7 linked regions of the Homo sapiens genome follow. The protein of the gene in region 6 purifies or fractionates together with the protein of the main gene of each other region. This does not show direct contact. Each region holds a gene or a part of one and is shown on either strand. Other genes may lie near its edges.

The links.
Region 1: the proteins of DERL1 (region 6) and EMC1 purify together in Homo sapiens (affinity purification with mass spectrometry; one large-scale study listed by BioGRID and IntAct). This does not show direct contact.
Region 2: the proteins of DERL1 (region 6) and TMEM129 purify together in Homo sapiens (affinity purification with western blotting; 3 studies listed by BioGRID). This does not show direct contact.
Region 3: the proteins of DERL1 (region 6) and PTGS2 purify together in Homo sapiens (affinity purification with western blotting; 2 studies listed by BioGRID). This does not show direct contact.
Region 4: the proteins of DERL1 (region 6) and ARL6IP5 purify together in Homo sapiens (affinity purification with mass spectrometry; one large-scale study listed by BioGRID and IntAct). This does not show direct contact.
Region 5: the proteins of DERL1 (region 6) and TRIM25 purify together in Homo sapiens (affinity purification with western blotting; 2 studies listed by BioGRID, with this or other methods). This does not show direct contact.
Region 7: the proteins of DERL1 (region 6) and EPB41L3 purify together in Homo sapiens (affinity purification with mass spectrometry, with the first as the bait; one study listed by BioGRID). This does not show direct contact.

The regions. Positions count from the first base shown.
Region 1 is NC_000001.11:19,217,843-19,220,524, forward strand, and holds part of EMC1 (ER membrane protein complex subunit 1 isoform 1 precursor), read right to left. Parts: intron 1,857-2,682; coding exon 1,727-1,856; intron 1,641-1,726; coding exon 1,461-1,640; 3' UTR 1-1,460. UniProt on the Homo sapiens protein: Part of the endoplasmic reticulum membrane protein complex (EMC) that enables the energy-independent insertion into endoplasmic reticulum membranes of newly synthesized membrane proteins.
Region 2 is NC_000004.12:1,715,452-1,718,323, forward strand, and holds the end of TMEM129 (E3 ubiquitin-protein ligase TM129), read right to left. Parts: coding exon 2,701-2,872; intron 2,225-2,700; coding exon 2,065-2,224; intron 1,978-2,064; coding exon 1,729-1,977; 3' UTR 501-1,728; downstream 1-500.
Region 3 is NC_000001.11:186,674,358-186,677,423, reverse strand, and holds part of PTGS2 (prostaglandin G/H synthase 2 precursor), read left to right. Parts: intron 1-507; coding exon 508-591; intron 592-710; coding exon 711-957; intron 958-1,239; coding exon 1,240-1,526; intron 1,527-2,027; coding exon 2,028-2,175; intron 2,176-2,661; coding exon 2,662-3,066. UniProt on the Homo sapiens protein: Dual cyclooxygenase and peroxidase in the biosynthesis pathway of prostanoids, a class of C20 oxylipins mainly derived from arachidonate ((5Z,8Z,11Z,14Z)-eicosatetraenoate, AA, C20:4(n-6)), with a particular role in the inflammatory response.
Region 4 is NC_000003.12:69,104,265-69,106,592, reverse strand, and holds the end of ARL6IP5 (PRA1 family protein 3), read right to left. Parts: intron 2,130-2,328; coding exon 1,957-2,129; 3' UTR 501-1,956; downstream 1-500. UniProt on the Homo sapiens protein: Regulates intracellular concentrations of taurine and glutamate. Negatively modulates SLC1A1/EAAC1 glutamate transport activity by decreasing its affinity for glutamate in a PKC activity-dependent manner.
Region 5 is NC_000017.11:56,904,050-56,907,549, reverse strand, and holds part of TRIM25 (E3 ubiquitin/ISG15 ligase TRIM25), read left to right. Parts: intron 1-3,061; coding exon 3,062-3,295; intron 3,296-3,500.
Region 6 is NC_000008.11:123,035,803-123,039,302, forward strand, and holds part of DERL1 (derlin-1), read right to left. Parts: intron 1-3,500. UniProt on the Homo sapiens protein: Functional component of endoplasmic reticulum-associated degradation (ERAD) for misfolded lumenal proteins. Forms homotetramers which encircle a large channel traversing the endoplasmic reticulum (ER) membrane.
Region 7 is NC_000018.10:5,418,498-5,421,997, reverse strand, and holds part of EPB41L3 (band 4.1-like protein 3), read left to right. Parts: intron 1-2,066; coding exon of another isoform or gene 2,067-2,120; coding exon 2,121-2,287; intron 2,288-3,500. UniProt on the Homo sapiens protein: Tumor suppressor that inhibits cell proliferation and promotes apoptosis. Modulates the activity of protein arginine N-methyltransferases, including PRMT3 and PRMT5.

The sequences.
Region 1 (2,682 bases), on a different chromosome or scaffold from region 6:
ATCAAACTGACAATTAATAAAATGGTTGTCATTTCCTCTTCCTTCTCTGCCATAATCTACCATCAGCATATGACCATAGAAAGATGACAAATTTTTAGATAACCTAACCAACCCATATATGATTAAACTGACCTTTCCTTACTAAAATAAAATACACTTACTCCATGTCTTCACTGCTTTTATCCCCTCTAATGTGAAAATAGCCTCAAAATGATCTTCTAAGACACAAAAGAGGACTTAAACAGTGTCATTTGTCACTTGCTTTATGCAAACATTCGAGTGTACCTCTTTCACCACAGGGCTAGAGATGGTCTACTCTGTACATACATTTCACAACAAAGAAAAATTCTGTCATTCCCCAACTCTATGACCAAGGAAAACTTTTAGGATTTCTTTAATTTGTAGCAGAGACACAGTGGCCTAGCCAATCGGCAGTGCTATACACACAGTATGCCAGTTTCCCACCCCTACCCTCTTTCTCCTTTTTTAAAGCTTCAAAGGTTAGATCAATAAAATTTAAAATTTCCTCATTTAAGGAGAAATATAATGACCCACATGTTAATTTATATTAAAAACTAAAAATAAATAATGGGGTTCTTAAACAAGGACATCTTTAACTAGGTTATGATTAGACCAGCCTGTGGGTGAAATGAGAGATTATCTCTTCTCCCTGGAAATGTCTTCAAGGCTCAGACAATTCAGTAGTTTTTAAAAGGCCCCAACTCACACATCTCAGGTGAAAAGTATAGGCAATGGGCAACAAACAAGACGCTAGTATGCACTTGGCTTCTGATAAATTGAAACAAAGATTTGGTGGCCCAGCCTAATAAATGACAGCACGAAACTAGAGGTTTAAAGTAAGTTTTGACATCACATATAGATCCCTCAACCCTAAGTTACTTTGGAGGGAAGCCATGAGAGGCTGGATCAGTCCTCAAGCCTCAGCTAAGGATGGATCCTATTTCTTCCCAGTGCAAAACACCAAATGTACCTATAAGGTGGAGTCGGCAAGGAGAGTTCCCCTCTTACTTTGAAGCAAGAGATGGAAAAAGTCAGAAAGATTTCTAGATAAAATTGAGAAACACAAAAGGCAAAGTAAAGTCAATTTAAACAGGCCTCACAAAAATCAGCCGGAATTCTTATTAAAAAAAACAAAACAGAACATTCATGGATGGGCAAAGAAAGGAAACAATGCAGACGCCTTTGGACTTCAAGAGAAAGCCCATCAGGAATCTCTGAGAGTGTCAGCTGAGAGAGTTCTGTCTCTCTCCATGTAGGATCCTTTCTGCATCATGTATATCCCAAAAGGAGTTCTGCGTGAAGGTCATCCATCTTCCCTACAGTTCTTAGCTGAGCACTGACACACACACATACTCCACCAATCCACCAAACTGCAGCTGTAGCTGCTTATCTGACCCACACTCCCCTGGCTCTCCACTTTTAGGCACAGTCTTTGTTCTTTATCGCCAGGCCCGATTCAGGAGCTTCACCTGTGCCAGTCTCTTAGTGATCATGGTGGCAAAAACCAGGCCAAAGAGGACGCTGCTGATTAACACGTAGTCATAGTCATCCTTCAGAACGTCAAACTGCTTGGATGGGTAGACTCGAGTTTGGTAAATGTCCAAACCATAGGCCACAACCTGGAAGGCAGATGGAATAAGAATTAGGAAAGAAACAACCAATGATCCACCAAGGGTGAAATAGGGCAGCTGTGGGCTCTACTCACCAAACAAGTGGACTCCAGACCCGAGGGAGCTGTGTAGATACCTCGCATTCGAGAAACTGTCTGGTTATAGTTGATGAATCGCTCTGCGTGTATCTGTACATCTGGAGAATACGGGATTAAGTTCTCCTCTCTGCAAAACACCAGCCGGGACAGGCAGTCTGAGCACTGCTGTAAAGGGATCTCTTGGCTGCCCTTCCTGAGTCCTGGGAGGTTTCCAGGCTACATATCTAGCCTCAAATCTCCTAGGAGGTCTGCTTGCATTAGGTAGTTAAAAATTTAGCAGCTGAATGTTAGGAAGGACTACAAGAAAGGAAGCTCTCTGGAGAGTAAGACTGAGATCTAGATTCCTACTTTGTTCTAAATCTGAAAAGAAAGAACATACAGATGACTGGCACTTCACACCACAAGAGGAAAGCCGACCATTTTAAAGCCAACACACTGAACCACTAAGCTAATTCCTGCTCTCCACTCCAGGGTGCCTCTCAGTCCCCATTTCTCTGAAACCTGATTATCATCCTGTGTCTTTTCCTAGCTTTAACCTCCTCTCTCTCATATACTTCTCCAAAACACACTCCTCTCCATTCCTCATGCCCCTAGGCAAAGAAATTCAGGATGGAGGTAAGAAAACCCGACAAGATGGTGGTTGTTAATACAACAATACCAACAGTGAATAAGATATTGGCTTGCCCACATGGTCTGGCCCGAATTACCTCAGTGATCTCATTTCCTAGCGTTGCCCTCCGCAAACTCACCAGACATGATCTCAGGGGATTTGCATTGCCTGTTCCCTCTGCCTAGAAAGTTCTTCCTCAGGTATCTACACAGCTAGCTCCTTCACCTCCTTCAGGCCTTCACTCAAAATGCACCTTCTCAAAGGGGCTTTCCCAGGCCACCTCTCAAATTACACCCACGCACATCCCCATCCCCACTTCCTAGCTCATTCCTGTTTTACTCTG
Region 2 (2,872 bases), on a different chromosome or scaffold from region 6:
GCTGTGGGGAACCCCAGGCTGCTGTCTTGGCTGCCCTAGGTGCTCGGCTGGCAATTCCTGGGCCACCCTGACCCACAGTGAGGTCAGTAGAGACAGCCTGGTGTCCTCACAGGACGCAGCTGCAAACATAAGTGAACCGGAAAGGCTGCTCACTCCTTGGCTACCCATGTGTCCCCACATCAGTTCCTGCATCTGGAAGCAGCCGCAGTGGCGACCACACAGTGACTTCCCCCAGGACGTGTCTCTGCCCCTCCCACCCTGCTCCTGCAGAGGGCCCTGGGTCAGGGGTTCTCAAGACCCCAGAGTCCCTAACCAGAAATCAGAGGGGAAGGTTCCTACTGTACCCGCCTCCCAACCAATGGGTTTTTCCTCCTTATTCTGAACAAAGCACGCCACGCACGCAATTCCACCTCTAAGGTGGCTTCTCCAATACCCACAGGCCATTCTCCAACTATGACAAAAGTTTGGTTTTAATATCGGGCAACACAAAACACAGTACATCACTTCAGACTAAATTTTATTAAATATGGTGTCATTTGGCTACAATCGGTTTGTCTTTATAAAACTAAGTAACTTATTTTGTAGTAAAAACAACCCCAACCCACTGCCCCTCTTTGGCAGCCCTTGAAACTCAGTTCAAAGCTAGGCCTGGCTCCCGGCCATGGCCCCTGCTGCCTTCACCTGCTGAGCGCTCTAGGAAGCCTCCCAAATCCCAAGTGTCAGGCCCCCGGAGTCCATCACCTCTGCCTCAAACAGCCAAGCCCAGGGGCTTTGGGGCCGCAGGTATGAAGGCCCCTCCAGTAGCCACACCTGTGTCAGGGCTGTGCCCTGGGGCCTGGCCAACATCCCCCCTCCCCTTGAACCATCAGGAACTGGGCAAGACGCCCACCAGAGGCTTGACCACAGGGGGCGTGCATCCCCTTCTGAGCCTGGGAGACCCTAGGGGAGTGGGTAGCCTGGGCTGGACCCCTGGTGGGCTTGTGTTCTGGATGTCGCTATGGCACTTTGGTCCTCAACTCAAACCCCCACCCCTACCCAGGAGTCTGAGACCTCGGCCTTCCCTGGACTTGTTGGGCAGAAAAAGGCACCAAGGACAGGATGAGAAACCCGGAGGGGCAGCCCCACAAATGAGGGCGCTCTGACCTGTCCTCCCATTGCCACCCCACCCAGGAACAGCCCCTCAACTGGTCACAGCCACCAGGAAGCCCCAGGACTGCTCCCACACCACAGCAGTGCCCTCTTCTCCATCCCACCCTCAGGACCTACCCAGGGTCCTCCAGGCAGCCAGGGGCCAGCTCCAGGACAGGGCAGGAGAATGCGGTCCAGGTCTGGCACGTAACTGAGGGTGGGTATGCTCCAGAGAAGTAAGGCAAATGGCCCAGATGACGACCACCTGGGGTAGACCCAGGGTCTCCAGGGAATGGCTCGGGGGCAGACGCTGTGTCTGTGTGTGCAGGATCTGCCCCCACCAGCAGGAAAGGGGCAGGAGGGAGGCAAAGAGGAGGTGCCCAGGACTTGTACCCTGGCTGCCAAGCAGGGTGGGGTGTTTTCATGAGGATTGCTTTTAACCAAAAGTCCTCAGCCTTCTGCAGACCCAGGGCAGAGGCGAGTTGCTCTACATCATGTGCTTTAAGTAGAGCCCTTTGCCAGCCAGGAGGCCCAGCCACCCCCTTCCCTGCCCTGTGGCTTTGGGGGGAGACACAGAGTCACCTCAAGGCCCCAGCCCACTCAGCGCACGGTGCACACATCCAGGATGCAGAAGCGTGCGCGGCAGGTGGGGCAGGGCACGCGGCTGGCCAGCCAGGTGTCAGGGCGCAGGGGGTCCTGGCGGCTGGCGAACCACTTGCCCATGCAGGTGAGGCACCACATGGGGCGGCAGTAACACTGCTGGCACTCGCCTGTGGCTGCCTCCTGGCAGGTCTTCACCAGCTTCACGCTGGCACGTGTCTGCATGCAGCCTATGCAGGCCTCCAGCTCCTGCGGGCAGGTGGAGCGTCACCAGGAGCCCAGGCAGACACCCGTGGGCACCCACCCATCCACCCGGCCCTGGCCCAGGCCCCCCACCTGGCTGCTGGGCACTGAGTAGGCCGGGTTGACCTCTACCAGGGAGGCAAATGTCTCCAGGAACAGGTCGCCCAGGCTCTGGTGGATGACCACATGGGCTGCCCTGCGGATGGGTGCCCGGAGCTTCTCGCAGAGCTCCCCGTACTCAGTGGAGTTCAGCCTGCAGGGAGGAGAGCTGCTGGGCCCCTCTGCAGGGCAAAGGGAGCGGAAGATGGAGGCTACACCCCAAGGAGTGACAGGGCAGCTGTCGCACCAGGACCAACCAGGAGAGATGGCCCTAAGGCCAGAGCCCACGGACCCAGTGCCAGACAGCCCAGCCTGGGCACGGGACGGACCTAGGAGCAAGGCAGCTGTCCAGCCTGAGGGCTGCACTGTCCTGAGTGCTCCCCAAGAATCTGGGGGAGGTGGCTCCAGGGAGTGGAAGGGGAGGCCAAGAGTGCAGGGGGACCCGAGGGAGGGCTATGCGGGAGGGCTCAGTGACTGGTGTCTTGTGGACACCTTGCCTGGTGTCACACAAGCCCAGGAGTGTTGGAGTCCACACCAGCTACACCCAGCACCTCCCAGGGGTCGTGGCACCAGAGCCTGGCTCTGGCCTGCCATGTGCCCTCCGCAGCCCCACAGGCACCACACTCTTACCAGATGTCAAAGGCCTGCACAGCAGGGTTGGTGCTGGCCACACGGATGGTGAGGAGCTGCACGGGCAAGTTCGAGTCTGGCGAGAGCTCATGCTGCCGAGACTCCGTCACAGTCAGGTGCACGTCCTGCTGCTGGGCCACGTGCACTCGGTAGGTGGTTACCTTCATCACCC
Region 3 (3,066 bases), on a different chromosome or scaffold from region 6:
ACATACATATGTACAGGTATTGTTATTTGTAATTTGACCCTTGTATTTTTTAGTTTAAAATGTTAGTACTGCAAAATGTTATGTCCTCAAAAACACATTGTACCATGATTATGCCGCTTTCAATATTGTAAAGTGAGGTTTTTGCCGCATTATTATTTTTTGGATTTCAATAGCATAGCTTCAAGTTATTCGTAAGAATTTTTTATAAATAATACATTTTTATACTTTTTTATAATTACCATATCATCATAGTGAAGTATATAATATATATGATATAAGCTCAATATAGTATATTAATTCCGTTAAACACAAAGACATATCAGTTTGTAGCTTTGGTGGATAAACAAATTAATTTAGCAATTCATGGCTATGAAAAATGTATATTTTATTTAAAAATTTTAAAGAAAGCTAAATGATCAAATTATTTAATGATGAATTATATGATAGACACTTTATATAAGAAAAACTTCAACAGCAACAAATTAAAATTTTTTCATCATTTTCTAGGTGGACTTAAATCATATTTACGGTGAAACTCTGGCTAGACAGCGTAAACTGCGCCTTTTCAAGGATGGAAAAATGAAATATCAGGTATGCTTCCTTTGACTATTAAGACTTAGTTATTACCGCTTATACCCATATTTTAAAATCCCTAAAAATGTGTTCCTTAACTTTTTAACTGATGTTTATTTATTTATTTATTTTTTTAGATAATTGATGGAGAGATGTATCCTCCCACAGTCAAAGATACTCAGGCAGAGATGATCTACCCTCCTCAAGTCCCTGAGCATCTACGGTTTGCTGTGGGGCAGGAGGTCTTTGGTCTGGTGCCTGGTCTGATGATGTATGCCACAATCTGGCTGCGGGAACACAACAGAGTATGCGATGTGCTTAAACAGGAGCATCCTGAATGGGGTGATGAGCAGTTGTTCCAGACAAGCAGGCTAATACTGATAGGTAAACAAGAAAATGATTTATATAAAACCCTCTTCCCCAGGGAAAATTAGTGTGCTATCTTTGTTATGTTTTGAGTAAATGACAAGATGTGGTAAATGAAAACTCACACATTCTATATACATTAAATATGTAAGCATGACTGATAAAATAGCTATCTTTTGATACTGACAAGGAAGAAAACAGAAATGAAGGAATAGCAAATTTTAAAAATTGCATTCCAGTTGCTTGAAAGCTTGTGATCAGATGCAATAAATGTTTTTATTATTTATTTTGTGCAAATAGGAGAGACTATTAAGATTGTGATTGAAGATTATGTGCAACACTTGAGTGGCTATCACTTCAAACTGAAATTTGACCCAGAACTACTTTTCAACAAACAATTCCAGTACCAAAATCGTATTGCTGCTGAATTTAACACCCTCTATCACTGGCATCCCCTTCTGCCTGACACCTTTCAAATTCATGACCAGAAATACAACTATCAACAGTTTATCTACAACAACTCTATATTGCTGGAACATGGAATTACCCAGTTTGTTGAATCATTCACCAGGCAAATTGCTGGCAGGGTAAGCATTATTATTGAAAACCAAAACAAAAGACTAGTCAGTAACTTTAGAATTTCTGCCACGGAAATTATTTTTCTTAAACTTACTAAAAGAGTAGTTAGTTATATTGCTAGTAAAATTATTTTATTGATATAAGAAGCCTAACTTTGTTTGAAAAGTCTAAACTTTTAGTCTAGTCTACAGTTGTCAGACAAATAGCAAATTGTACCCCTACCTTAAAAATATTTTCAAAAAGTATCTATAATCTTATAGGAATAAATATTTTAGGCTTGAATACTAGTGTTATTTTTGAAATGTAAAAAGGCAAATTAGTTCTAGGCTGGTGTCCCATTGAATTTTAAGCAGAGCTCCTGTTGAAATGTAGGTAAGCATCTTTCCAGCAAATAAAAATTGTCTCCGCTGGGAGTTTCAGTTTTACCTGATTTGTACCTAAGGCAAGCTGAATACAAACAGTAAATATGCCTAAAATTCTTGTTTTACAACTAATTTTACTTTCCACAGGTTGCTGGTGGTAGGAATGTTCCACCCGCAGTACAGAAAGTATCACAGGCTTCCATTGACCAGAGCAGGCAGATGAAATACCAGTCTTTTAATGAGTACCGCAAACGCTTTATGCTGAAGCCCTATGAATCATTTGAAGAACTTACAGGTAAGAAACAGTTTCTAAACTTCTTCGTTTTTTGTTTGTTTGTTTGTTTTTGTTGTTTTTGGTTTTCTTTTCGAGATGGAGCCGCCCTCTGTCACCCAGGCTGGAGTGCAGTGGCGCCATCTCGGCTCACTGCAACCTCCGCCTCCTGGGTTCAAGCAATTCTCCTGCCTCAACTTCCTGAGTAGCTGGGACTACAGGCTCACGTCGCACGCATGGATAATTTTTTGTATTTTCAGTATAGACGGGGTTTCACCGTGTTAGCCAGGCTGGTCTCAAACTCCTGACCTAGTGATCCGCCGGCTTCGGCCTCCCGAAGTGCTGGGATTACAGGCGTGAGCCACCGCGCCTGGCCCCTAAACTTCTTAAAAGAATCAGGGGTCAAATGGAAACAGAGAAGTTGGCAGCAAATTGAGCAAAAGAATCAAACTGTTTTTTATTTTGTGAAGTTTGACATTGGTTGTATCTCTGTCTTCATCGCCTTCACAGGAGAAAAGGAAATGTCTGCAGAGTTGGAAGCACTCTATGGTGACATCGATGCTGTGGAGCTGTATCCTGCCCTTCTGGTAGAAAAGCCTCGGCCAGATGCCATCTTTGGTGAAACCATGGTAGAAGTTGGAGCACCATTCTCCTTGAAAGGACTTATGGGTAATGTTATATGTTCTCCTGCCTACTGGAAGCCAAGCACTTTTGGTGGAGAAGTGGGTTTTCAAATCATCAACACTGCCTCAATTCAGTCTCTCATCTGCAATAACGTGAAGGGCTGTCCCTTTACTTCATTCAGTGTTCCAGATCCAGAGCTCATTAAAACAGTCACCATCAATGCAAGTTCTTCCCGCTCCGGACTAGATGATATCAATCCCACAGTACTACTAAAAGAACGTTCGACTGAAC
Region 4 (2,328 bases), on a different chromosome or scaffold from region 6:
AAGAAAAGATGATCCAATTTCATAGCTTATGGCCTCAATACACAGGTTTTGCCAAAAGAGGTGAAGCAGTTCACATTATGCTTTTTCTACCACCCAACCCTAAAGATCTTAGTTGCAGATTTTAGCTTGTTTTTAAATGTAATCATAATTTACAACATTTATATGTTACATTTTTCTGTTATTACCCTTCCAGAATTGACTACTGGCCATTAGTAATTACAGGTATCTTTTTTTTTATTAGTTTCTCCAAATTTATTGGATTTTATCGGCAGAATTCACCTTGTAGAAAATGGAATGGGCTAACATGTATATAAAACTGGGCTAACATGTATATAAAACTCGTGCCAGGTTTAAAAATAGGATCCCACTGGAATTGTTTTATTCTGGCTGCAAGTTAATAAAGTATTCAAGCTTTACTAAACAGTATTTGAAACAGCTGAAGTGTTTGCTTCACTGTTTATAGGGTCGTCGCCAAGTTTCTCAGGTATTTAAGACAGATGTGCATTAAATAAAGTCTCACCAAAAAAACCTTTAATCAATTTTATTCTTCATATGTGGGTAAGGGTACAGATTCTAGACCATGTCTGTGAAGTCATGGTGATATCACTGTGCTAAAGATCATGGCTGTAGGTTGGCTGAGAATTTAAAATGCAAGAAAAATCAGAAGCAGCACATCATTGCTTCTTATTCTAGGACATACAGAGAGTTTCTTCAGTAAGTACCACTCCAGTTGTCTTCACAATTTAATGCTACAGAAACCTAAATGTTTCTACTTCAGCTACGAAATCATTCAATTGGCAGGCAAAACATTTTTTATTACCTATTTATAAAAACATGAGAAAGGGAGGAAAAATAATAGAATGTATAAACTCATGCTATCATAATTCTAATGTCTAGCTATAAAGGCATATGGTTGTAACAATTGCTATCTAAAATTTTTTATTAGCTGCAGTAGCTGCATTCCATTTTCATTACCATTTTTTAAAGTCTTTTTGCTTGGTCATCTAAAGACGTTTTTCAAATTTCAAAAGATCAGCTATTATTGTCCTCCTTGTGCCCCTAAGGAATTAATAAAATGCACATTCATTTCCTTCTTTCTAAATGTTCCAGTTAAAAACGAAACAATGCAAAAATGGCAAACATTTTCTTGGACCATTTTTTTCACTGTAACAACAAAAAATGTGCAAGGTAAATAGAACTCAAGTTTTGTTTTATTTTTTGTCTGTTTGTATTTTAATAAGTCCGTCCAGAATAATACAGGTTACATAGCTGTAACCATCTTAAGGAAAATGACATTAAGTTTGCAACAAATACTTGCTGGTGAAAACACATTACTAGCATTTCAAAAATTTACAAAAATGTAACAAAATATCCTAAACAGCTATCTTTATATTTGTAAAGGAAGTATGAACAACTGGCTTAACCAGTTTCCACTGCACATCAAACAGGTGGCAAAGTGATAGAGATCATCTTTGATTTTTAAGAGAATAATAAAAACTAATTTATATCCCACACATTACAATTCTAGGGGATTAGGAACAGGCTAACACATGATGTCATCTACTTTAACAGCCTTTTCATTTACTCGTATTGTCTTGATACTTTACAATGATTTTTTTTTTCCTATAAGATAATCGTATTGTTGCTGTAAAAGCCGTAATTCTTTTATTTTTTTTAATTCCCTTAAAGAAATCGTGTGATCCATTTCCCATTAGATTTCATAAACACACGTGAAACTTCAGACACAATAGGAGGGTGGTGGTTTTCTTTCGGTTTCTGAGGTCTTCTCTCTGAAACATCAGAGCTGATAATAGTTCGGCCTATACATGCATGCTGCCATAGATAATTGGGTGGTACGTGCACCTCCTGTTTCAAAAACGCAAGCAGAACATAGGTCTGGACAAGGGCAAGCTGCAACTCAATTTCTGCTGCAACCCTAGCTCAGGTAAGTTATGTTTATTCCTTCACTTTGCTGATATAGTCAGTGAGTCTGTTGATGCCTTCTTCCTGCTGTTCTAGGGCATCCAGGACAATGCCCATCGGTGTCCTCTTCAAACCTATTCCTTCCATTTTATTCTCCAGTTTGTTCTTGAGGTTCCGAAGTCTCAACGATGCATGGATAAACATCACTGCAGAGAAGGGACACCTGGTTAACACCAAAGCAACAATTCTCTTTTGCCATATCAATATTACACTCCCTCTCTTCACACTATTAGTAAACTGCCTTAGTTAGCCACAGTCCAGTCTGCTTCTCGAATTGATGCAAGCTTTCAAATGGCTCCTTGGACTTTATGTAAAGCTCTCCATCAAGTCATACATAGTTTTTTT
Region 5 (3,500 bases), on a different chromosome or scaffold from region 6:
CAGATTTTTACCCTTTTTCAGAGCTGCAGCACCAGTTTTATTGCAGCAGTTATGGTTTCATTAGATGAGATCTAGGTTAGAATACCAGCTCTGTCACATACTAGTTTATGTTGCTTTGGTCATGTTGACAGATCTTTGAACCTTCGTTTCCCAATTTGCACAATGGAATCACAAGTTCTTTCTGAAGATGACTGTGAGACAAATGAAAGAATGCACGTGAAAGTACCTGTATTTGTTAGAGGGCAGGCTATACTGCTGTAACAAAGATACACCAGAATTCAGAGGCTTAAATATGATTGAAGTTTATTTTACCAACTGACAGTCCAAACCCACACATGAGTAACCCAGACTAAGGGTTCATGTGATCATTCAGGGATTAAGGGTTCTCCCTTCTTATTACCCTACTATTCCACAAGGTATTGTCCCAGCCTCTTTGGTTGAAGCTGGGTTACCATTACATCTTTGTTCTAGCCTGTGACAAAGGGACAAAAAGGAGGTGGAGGACAACAAGCAATTTTCCTTTACACAAGTGACACAGTGTTGCACATATCACTCCTGGGCATGGGTCACTGGAAGGAGTTTTGTCACATCGCCTAGTCTAGCTGCAGGGGAGGCTGGGAAATGTAGTCTGAGTAGCCACACGCCCAGATGAAACTCCAGGGATGTTCTCTTACCAAAAGGAAAAAAGGGAAAATGAACACTGGGGGACACTTGTAGTCACATTAGAAGTTGCACAGTGAAAGATTGGCAAAGAAGGCTGGGCGCAATGGCTCACGCCTGTAATCCCAGCACTTTGGGAGGCCGAGACGCATGGATCACCTGAGGTCAGCAGTTCAAGACCAGCCTGGCCAACATGGCGAAACCCCATCTCTACTAAAAATACAAAAAATTAGCCGGGCGTGGTGGTGCATGCCTATAGTTCCAGCTACTCAGGAGGCTGAGGTAGGATAATTACTTGAACCCGGGAGGCAGAGGTTGCAGTGAGCCGAGGTCATGTCATTGCACTTCAGCCTGGGTGACAAGAGTGAAACTTCATCTCAAAAAAAAAAAATATTGGCGAAGAAATACTTGAATTCCTCTTTTCCAGTCTACTGTCCTTCTTGTGTGTTTTTCTCTTTGTTATGTTTGATTCTGAGCTATTGTCTTAGTCTGTTTTCTGCTGCTATAACGGAATACCACAGACTGGGTATTTGCAAAGAAGAGAAGTTTATTTGGCTCAAAGTTCTGGAGCCTGAGAGGTCCAAGAGCATGCTTCCAGCATCTGGTGAGGATCATCCATAGCGGAAGGATGGAAGGCAGGAGAGCGGGACAGGAAGAAGGAGGTCAAACCCTGTGATAAGAATATGAATCCATTCATGAGGGCAGAGCCCTCGTGATCTAATCACCTCAGTGGCAATTAAATCTCAGCATGAGCTTTGGAGGAGACATTCAAACCATAGCAGCTATTGAGGCTACCCAAGATGTGAAACAAAATTGCAGCTACTAAAGCAGTGCTGTCCAGCAGAAATACAGTAGGAGTGCAGATGTCATTTTAAGTTAATTTGAATAGTACATGAGATTTATTGTATTTTATTTATCTATCTTTTTTAGGACAGGTCTCACTCTATCACCCAGGCTGGAGTGCAGTGGAACAATCATAGCTCACTGCAGCTTTGAACTCCTGGGCTCAAGTAATCTTCCTGACTGAGCCTACTCCCCTTCACCACCCCCACTCTCCAGGAATACAGTCCATCTAATTTTTTTATTTTTATTTTTGTAGAGAAACAGTCTGTCTATGTTGCCCAGGCTGGTCTTGAACTCCTGGCCTCAAGCGATCCTCCTGCCTCGGTCTCCCAAGGTGCTGGGATTATGAGCATGAATCACTGCACTTGACTGAGATTAATTTTAATATTATAGTTTATTTAATTTGGTATATCTTAAATATTATTCTTTCAACATATCATCAATTTAAAAGTTTTAAGATATTTTACATTCCTTTTTTTGGTGTGAAACCCTTGAAAGCCAGTATGTATTTTACACTCATGGCAAGTCTCAGTTTGGACTAACCACATTTCAAGTGCTCAGTAGCCACATGTAGCAAGTGGCTATGTTATTGGAAAGTACAATCCTAGAGCATGATATTCTCTAGAAATTTTCCAGAGCTGCATCCTGACTTTTTGTTTTGTTTTATTTTATTTTATTTTTTTGAGATAGCGTCTCGCTGTGTCTCCCAGGCTGGAGTGCAGTGGCACGATCTCGGCTCACTGTAACCTCTGCCTCCTGGGTTCAAGCGATTCTCCTCCCTCAGCCTCCTGAGTAGCTGGGACTACAGGTGCGCGCTGCCACAACCAGCTAATTTTTGTATTTTTAGTAGAGATGGGGTTTCACCATGTTGGCCAGAATGGTCTTGATCTCTTGCTGACTTTTATTTTTAAAAATTGCCCATGAACCACCTTTAGCTTAAGAAATAAAATATCATCGATGCAGCCCCTCCCATCTGTTTCTCCCTTATTCTATCCCTCTTCCTCTCTTCCAGAAGTAACCACTCTCCTGAATTTATTTATTCATTCCCATGCGTTTCTTTGTGCATATAGCCATTCTGTTTGTTTCTAAGCTTTATTGAAAGAGCATCATATGGTGGATCTTCTTCTGCAAGTTGTTTTTCTCTCATGGAGATTTATCCAGGCATAGCTCCAGTTTATTAATTTTCATAACTGTTTAATATTCCATCCTATGAATAGCTCCCAGTCTTTGCTTCAAGTCTTCTTCTGATGGATGTTCAGGTTGATTCCAGGTTTTTGCTACTTCAGACAATGCTGCCTGTGAACATTCTTATGCATGTCTCAGGGGCAGGTGGCTGCAATTTTTTGTAGCACATATTCCTAGGACTGGAGTTGCCGAGTCATAGCCTATGAGCACCTCCAAATTTATTAGATATTGCCAAGTTGCTCCCCACAGTGGTTTGTTCTCCCACAAAGTACAGGTAAGAGTTCCTGGAACTCCACATCTCACCCATGCTTGGGGCTGCAGCCTTAGCACTTTTGCCCCTTTGACGGGCATCCTCTTACCTTGGCCCTCTCAGATGACTGCAAACAGAAAGGTGGAGCAGCTACAACAAGAATACACGGAAATGAAGGCTCTCTTGGACGCCTCAGAGACCACCTCGACAAGGAAGATAAAGGAAGAGGAGAAGAGGGTCAACAGCAAGTTTGACACCATTTATCAGATTCTCCTCAAGAAGAAGAGTGAGATCCAGACCTTGAAGGAGGAGATTGAACAGAGCCTGACCAAGAGGGATGAGTTCGAGTTTCTGGAGGTAGGTCGCCACAAGGCATTGTTGAATGTTTTTTTTTTTTTTTTGCCTGATGTCATGCTGTTGATGATAGGGCCCTCAAGGAGCGGGAGACTGGAAGAGGTCACTGGAAGCATCCCTGAGACACACGCTGTATTAGTTTTCTGAGCTGGGCAACAACTTACCACAAATGTAGGGGCTTCAAAAAACACATATTTATTCTCTCAGA
Region 6 (3,500 bases):
TAAAATCTTCTAAACAATCTGCTACTGAAATAATTTGCCATCCAGAATCTAGTGTTTTTTTTTTTAAAGTATGAAAAGTGAGGATTTGTCTGAAATAATAAGGATCACTTGATTCGGACTTAAGTATATATCAGTCACCAAGCAAGAAAGATGATGAGCACCTGTGTGACAAATGCTAGTTTAGTAAACTGTGGCCTTTTTTGCTGGGTGGGGAGACACAACGGGTAGGCAAGAAAAGGCCCCTTCCATTCATTTAAACAAATGAAAGGCACTTAATCTTTAAAAAGAGCAATTAGAAGCCATCAAATCTACTCCTAGATATATAGGCAACAGAAATTACTATTTCTCCTCACCAAGAAGTACATATGTTCACCAAGACATGTATTAGAATGTTCATAGCAGCACCATTCATAATAGCCAAACTGGAAACTGCCCAAAAGGTCCATTAATAGCTGAATGAGTAAATAAATTGTGGTATGGTCCCATAATGAGCAACCTATAACCACATGCAACAATATGGGTGACTCTCATAATGTTGATAAAAGCAGGTAGACACAAAAGAGAACATACTTCATAATTCCACCTATAAAAAGCATAAAAACTGGCAACAACAATACATGGTATTAAAAATCAAGAGCATAGTCACCCTTAGAGAGGACAGTGACCAGAAGGAAGCAGGAGAAAGCTTTTAGAGATTCTGTTTCTTGATCTGAATGCTGGCTGTATACATGTTTTGAATTTTTAAAAACTCAAGCTATAAACTTATTATACATACACTTTCCTGCTTGTATATTGTAACTCAATAAAAAGTTTTTTAAAAAGCCACAATCTAATGGGCAACATTATTACAGAACACAGCAGAACTGTTCAACATGGACAGGACTACTAAGGAAAGATCTTAAATTACGTACCAGAACACTTGCCACTAGAGTTCTATAGCCAAACCTTGATGGATATAGAACTTCTATGCTCAGCCTATAGTCCAAGTTCATTCTCCTCCCTGCTATGTTGAAACGTCTCTCTTCCCCAATACACCCTTAAATCAGTCTCCTAAGGTTGCTGTCATCAGGTTAAATGTGATATATAAGCAAAAGCTTGGCAAATATAAGCACAAGGCTGAGTCACAGAATTGGTTGGTACCATTTCTTATTCCTGGAAATAAATTAGAGAAATCAAGAGTTCACATCTTCCCATTTCAAGTCAGGATGCTTTTAAGAAGACAAAGCAGAATAATCATCCAGCAGTTACATTTCAATTGCAATTACTAATTAAAATTAGAATCTTACTGTCCAGGAGAGAAGGAAATAAGGCATAAAGTATTGGCTGATAAATAAAAATTGGCAACTATTTTTTTTCCCATACCAACCACGTAGGAGGCAACTATTTTTGAATAGCTTATTTATCAGGCTACTTATTGGGTATTACAAACATTTTTCTATGTGTTCTACATACTAGAGGCAAGAAGTAGATAACATATTTCCTCAATTTGAAGGTACTCGTTCCTGTGTTTCTGAAATTAGAGTGTCTTACAATCAATACACTCGTTGAATGTAATTTCTACTCCCCTGTCCCCCAAAAAAGTTGCATTAAATTGATGGTGCATCGTATAATCAATGGAGTCTTAGAACAAAGTTAATATGCTATGATATTATCCTCAGATCCTAAAGAAATTGAGGCTCAGACAGGATAAATAACTTGCCTAAGGGTACACAACTAGCAGGGGACTGAGCCAGGCCTTGAGACCATGATTCAACTACTTGAAATCTAACAGCCTTTCTACTCGAATAGAAAAGGAAAAACAATTTGCTATGATTGATTTGGAAGAAATCACCTTCAAAAATGTTTTGCTACATACTTATTTTTTTCGTAGATATTATGCAAAGGAGTTAAACAAAACAGCTTAGAACTATCCTTGACTCAACGAAATAGAAACTGAAACTGAAGCTGTCTACAAAATGGGGGTAACACTTATCTCAGGATGACTGTCAGAGTTCAGTGACATGACCTCAGGGAAGTTGTAACAGGGTGATGTTATTTTGTCCAAAGAAATGAAGAAATATAGCCATGCAGGCGGCCCTGGGAGACATAACCTTAGAAAACACAAAGGCAGCAGGAATTGCCACCTCTTGTGTAGTTAATCAACGATTAATATGAAGACATTTCATTATTGTGAACTATTTGATTGATGAACATAAATCTGAGGGACTCAGAATAGGGAGAAATCGTAGACAACAGTATAATGAGTCTTAACACACACCTGTTTCAACCTATCCAAACTAAAGAAATAACATTATAAACCTCAGCGTTCTAAACCAACAAGCTACACACAAGAATCTAGAGCTGAGGAGGAAAAATAACTTGTCACTTCCAACATGAGCACACAATTCTAAATCAATCACTCCCCCATTTTTGTAAGTTGTGAAAGATTCAGCTTCTAAGGAAAAAAGGAACTTTCTAGCAGAACTCTGCTAAAGCACACCGCACACTGTCCGTGCACAGCAGCCTCTCAAATGCAGTTTTTCCTTGACTGCTTCATTTGCAAATGAGTTCCTCCAGGTGGGTCTGAAAGTTACATGTGTCCAAAATAGGCAAGAATCAGAGTAACAGGAAGAAAAGACAAGGTACAGCTGTTGGTCTTTTCACACCTGGGCAGTACACTGTCCTGCCTCCTGCTGGCAGCTGAGAAGAAATAATACAGGGAAGATGACAAAATTGTGGAAGATGTGACAAGAACGATTACTCTTTTTAATCAGTTCACCACTTTTAACCTTATACACCCGCAGCCTGTTAGGCTTATTTACATTGCTTCTTTACAATGTGCTTATTTACATCGTGTAGTCACTAGTGTCACTACACAAGTGAGGATTTTGCTAACAGGGACAACAAGCCGGTTTTGACCAGGTCCTTCTCACACATTAATATGCCACCATTGCTCCCCATGACCACACATTACCCAACAAGCCACCAGGGACAAAGTACACAACATTCTCTCAGCCAACAAATATTTAGTAAAGTAATAAACACAGAACAGTATGCAATTCCAGCTGCACTCCAGAGTCATGTTTTTATATCCAACTGCTCCCTTGGCCTCGCCACATGGATGCCTGAAAAGCATCTCAAGACTTAGCACAGCCAAAACCTAACTCTTCATCCATACCAGCCCCCACTCCCAACCCAGGTATCCCTGACCATTCCCCATCTCAGTCAAGGGCTCCGCCATCCACTCAGCTGCTCCTGTGAAAACAGTAGTATCTTTCAGTCCTGCTCGCTTCACCCATTCACTCTTTATATCCATTCGGCTGTAATCTCGTCCCCTCTGCCAAGTCTATGCCCTTTTCTCTATCTTCACAGCCACACTGATCCAAACCACCATCTCTCTGGCCTCCTAACTGGATTCATCTCTCTGATCTCATCACCTAGCCCTTCCTCCTTCAACCCCCTCCATACACACACAAAGTCCACTCCACAGAATAGTCGGGGCAATCTGTCAGTCCTTTGTT
Region 7 (3,500 bases), on a different chromosome or scaffold from region 6:
TTTTTCACATTTTTTTAAAATTTCAGTAGCTTTTGAGATACAAGCAGTCGGTTTTTGGCCACATGGCTGAATTGTATAGTAGTGAAGTCTGAGATTTTAGTGCACCTGTCACCTGAGTAGTGCACATTGTACCCAATATGTAGTTTTTTATCCGTCACCACCACCCCCGCCACTGTCTGCCTTCTGAGTCTCCAGTGTCCATTATATTACTCTGTGCCTTTGCATACCCATAGCTTAGCTCCCACTTATACATGAGAACGTATGGTATTTGGCTTTTCATTCCTCAGTTACTTCATGTAGAATAATGACCTTCAGCTCCATCCAAGTCACTTCAAAATACATGATTTCATTCATTTTTATGACTGAGTAGTATTCCATGATGTATATATACCACATTTTATATTCATAATTATTCTTACAGGCTTTTGTGAGCTAGCCTAGGAAGTTAATTGCCATTGTGTGTCTTCTAAGAGTTTCCAGAATACCGAACTTAGAGCCAGCCCTTTTGAATAAAATAATTACCAGGACTGTTTCGAGCTGAATTAAGATATTGAAATATCGATGTTAACATTGAAGCTTTTCTTTCTGGTTTATCCTATTGACTCTTGTTTCTCCTTTAGAGTGTCTCTATTACCTATTTCTATATGTTATCAGTATTTGAGGAACTTTGTAGAATCGCACTTTTTTTTTCCTGAATATCATCCACTTTGTTCAGTGACGTGCACCCCAGGGAACACATTTGTTGTGAATGTTGTTTTCCTTATGACCTTTAGTGTGATAATGACTGCTGAGAAGACAGAAGACAATTGTGAAATCAGTGTACTAATGTCATGCTGTCTCTTTCTCCCTGCCCAAAAGTGATGTTAGTATGTGTTGTCTCTCACTCCTTGCGGTCCTGCCAGCTCTAGTATGTTTTCTGCTGCTGTTGAGCTGGGTGGCACAGCTGCATGTTGCAACATAAACTGCTTTTTTGCAAGGTTGCATCTCACAGAGAATGGCCTAACTGGTCCATTAGGAAGTTGTGTCTCATATGAGCTTTTTCAACGGTGTAAAGAGATATAAAATGTCTTAGTGAAGATATTTTAGTGACATAGTTTAGCTATCGAAAGCATTTCAGAGAGGATTTCATTTCAGAATCCTTTCTTTTATTTACGTTTTTAAATTCCTAAAATAATAATGTAGATATTTTGTCTGTGATTAGTTACTGTGTATTTGAAAAGCAACATTTATAAGTTTTAATAAATTTTATATCTAAAACCTAAAATAATGAGTACCAACTTTTAAAACTTAATTAAGCATCTTTTCACTAAGACGTTTTAGCTGGGATGAAAGGCTCTGTCTTATTCTCTTGAGTTTGCATGTTTTGCATTTGCATGAATTTCATTTAGCAACATTCATTGTGTTTTCCCAAAATATTAGAGATGAGTAAATGTATATGCATATTATGGTAGTCTGTTTAAAATGCAGTAGAAATGAAAACATTTCTGTACTTTAGGTGAATGGAATTGCCATCTGATTTTTATAATCTCTACCAAGATGGTTAATATTTGTTATTACCCATGGAGCTTTTATACTGTAAGAGTGATAGACTTTTCAACATTAATAATAATAATATGAAAACCAATTCAGTGCTCCTTGGTGAATGGCACTTCCAAAGAGCCAAGTGTATTAGAGCAATTGTGTACTGCAAAGACTGCTGTTAGGTGTGGAATTGGCCACTACGAGACTGGTGCCAGTGCCAGCCAATGGTGATAATATGCCCAGCGGCAGCCTCGCCTCATGACCCTCCACTCACCTCCACACTTACACACATCCTCAGCAGAGAGTCTGAGGATAGATGAAATTCCAAGACATGAGCATTTCACGAATTTTAAAGCACTCATATAGGAAATACAGGAAGGTCATGCTCTCATGAAGGTCCCTGCAGCACTGATTTGTTTTTTCAAGGCAAACCTGGTATTTTGTGTTGGTATTTTTTTTTTCAGTAAAGATATAGTTGGTATTGTTCATGTGTCTTCTGACCTAACTATTTTGGATTTTATTTCTTTAATTGTATTTGCTTTTAGCATCAGTGAATGAAAACCATGAAATATACATGAAGGATTCTATGTCTGCTGCAGAGGTTGGTACTGGCCAGTACGCCACAACAAAAGGCATCTCTCAGACCAACTTGATCACCACTGTGACTCCGGAGAAGAAGGCTGAGGAGGAGCGGGACGAGGAAGAGGACAAACGGAGGAAGGGGGAAGAAGTCACGCCCATCTCGGCCATCCGGCACGAGGGAAAGGTATAGCTCCCAGACTGCCTGCAAGAGCTTGCTCCAGCTTTTAAGAATGACTAAATGATGCTGAGGCTGTAAACCAGGAATGTGCTCAGATTTAGGATAAATCATATGTCAGCACTGGTCACATTCATATGTCAATTTTTAAATTATGATTGCTGTTTCAACATTTTTTCTCTGAAAGGTTCATTCATAGCTCTTTGAAAATTTTTATTTTAATAACTTGTGTGCTATGTAAGACTTTCAATAGCTGTCCTGTATGTGTATCTTAAAAATACTTTTGGTGGCGTATTACACTTTTCTGTTTGGGCTCACATTTCAGAACTGTCACTAAAGCTGTTTTCTTTGTTTCTGGCCCCATTCTCCTACCCAAGTACAGCATATTTTTCTAGATATACAATTATCATATTGCCATTCTTCTGACTGTAAGTACATGGAGTGACCACAGCCTACATATTTATACTTACGCCTAATCAGCAGAGTAGTGACTGGCCATGTTTTGAAAAGGGATCTTAAGGCAGAAAGTTGCAACAGGAGATAAAAAGGGAATTTGGCAGCAGCTTCTTCTTTCAGTGTTGAATTCATTAAACTTTGTAACATTGTTTCACCCCAAATTAAATATCTTTTTTAACACCATTTTTAAACACTATGTTTTTTTCTGGTGATCCAGCACTACAAAGCAACTTTTCAGAAAAATAATTTAAAAGTCAAAAAACCCTTCAGGAGGCTTATACCTAATAATAAGGGAAAAACAGAGTGGCTCCTGGCCTGTACAGAGCATAGAGTAAGAGGAAATAGCAGAATGAAAATGCTCATAATAACCCATGGGTTATCCTAAAATTTGAGTAAATTTGATTCACGAGTGATCTTTTGTACATGGGCTCTTCAAATAGAGATGGAGAATCACTACCCCGAATTCTATGGAAAGTGTTCCTTTTGATGAGAATTTAGCAGTGACATCTTAACATAGACAAATAATTTTTGTAGTTATGCTAAAATATTACAAATGGCCCAATCCATCATCTTTTATTTTTTGGGATAAGATTATTTATTTGGCAAACACAAAATTAAGCAGAGAGTAGGAAATAATGGCAGGGATATTTCGATAACTTTTGCTGTTAAAATGTGCTTTGTTCTAAATTTTGTTTTTACACTCTTCCTGTCTGTTCAGTCAAGGAAGGCTTTAAAGGGGACAGAAAAGAATATAATCCACCCAAAA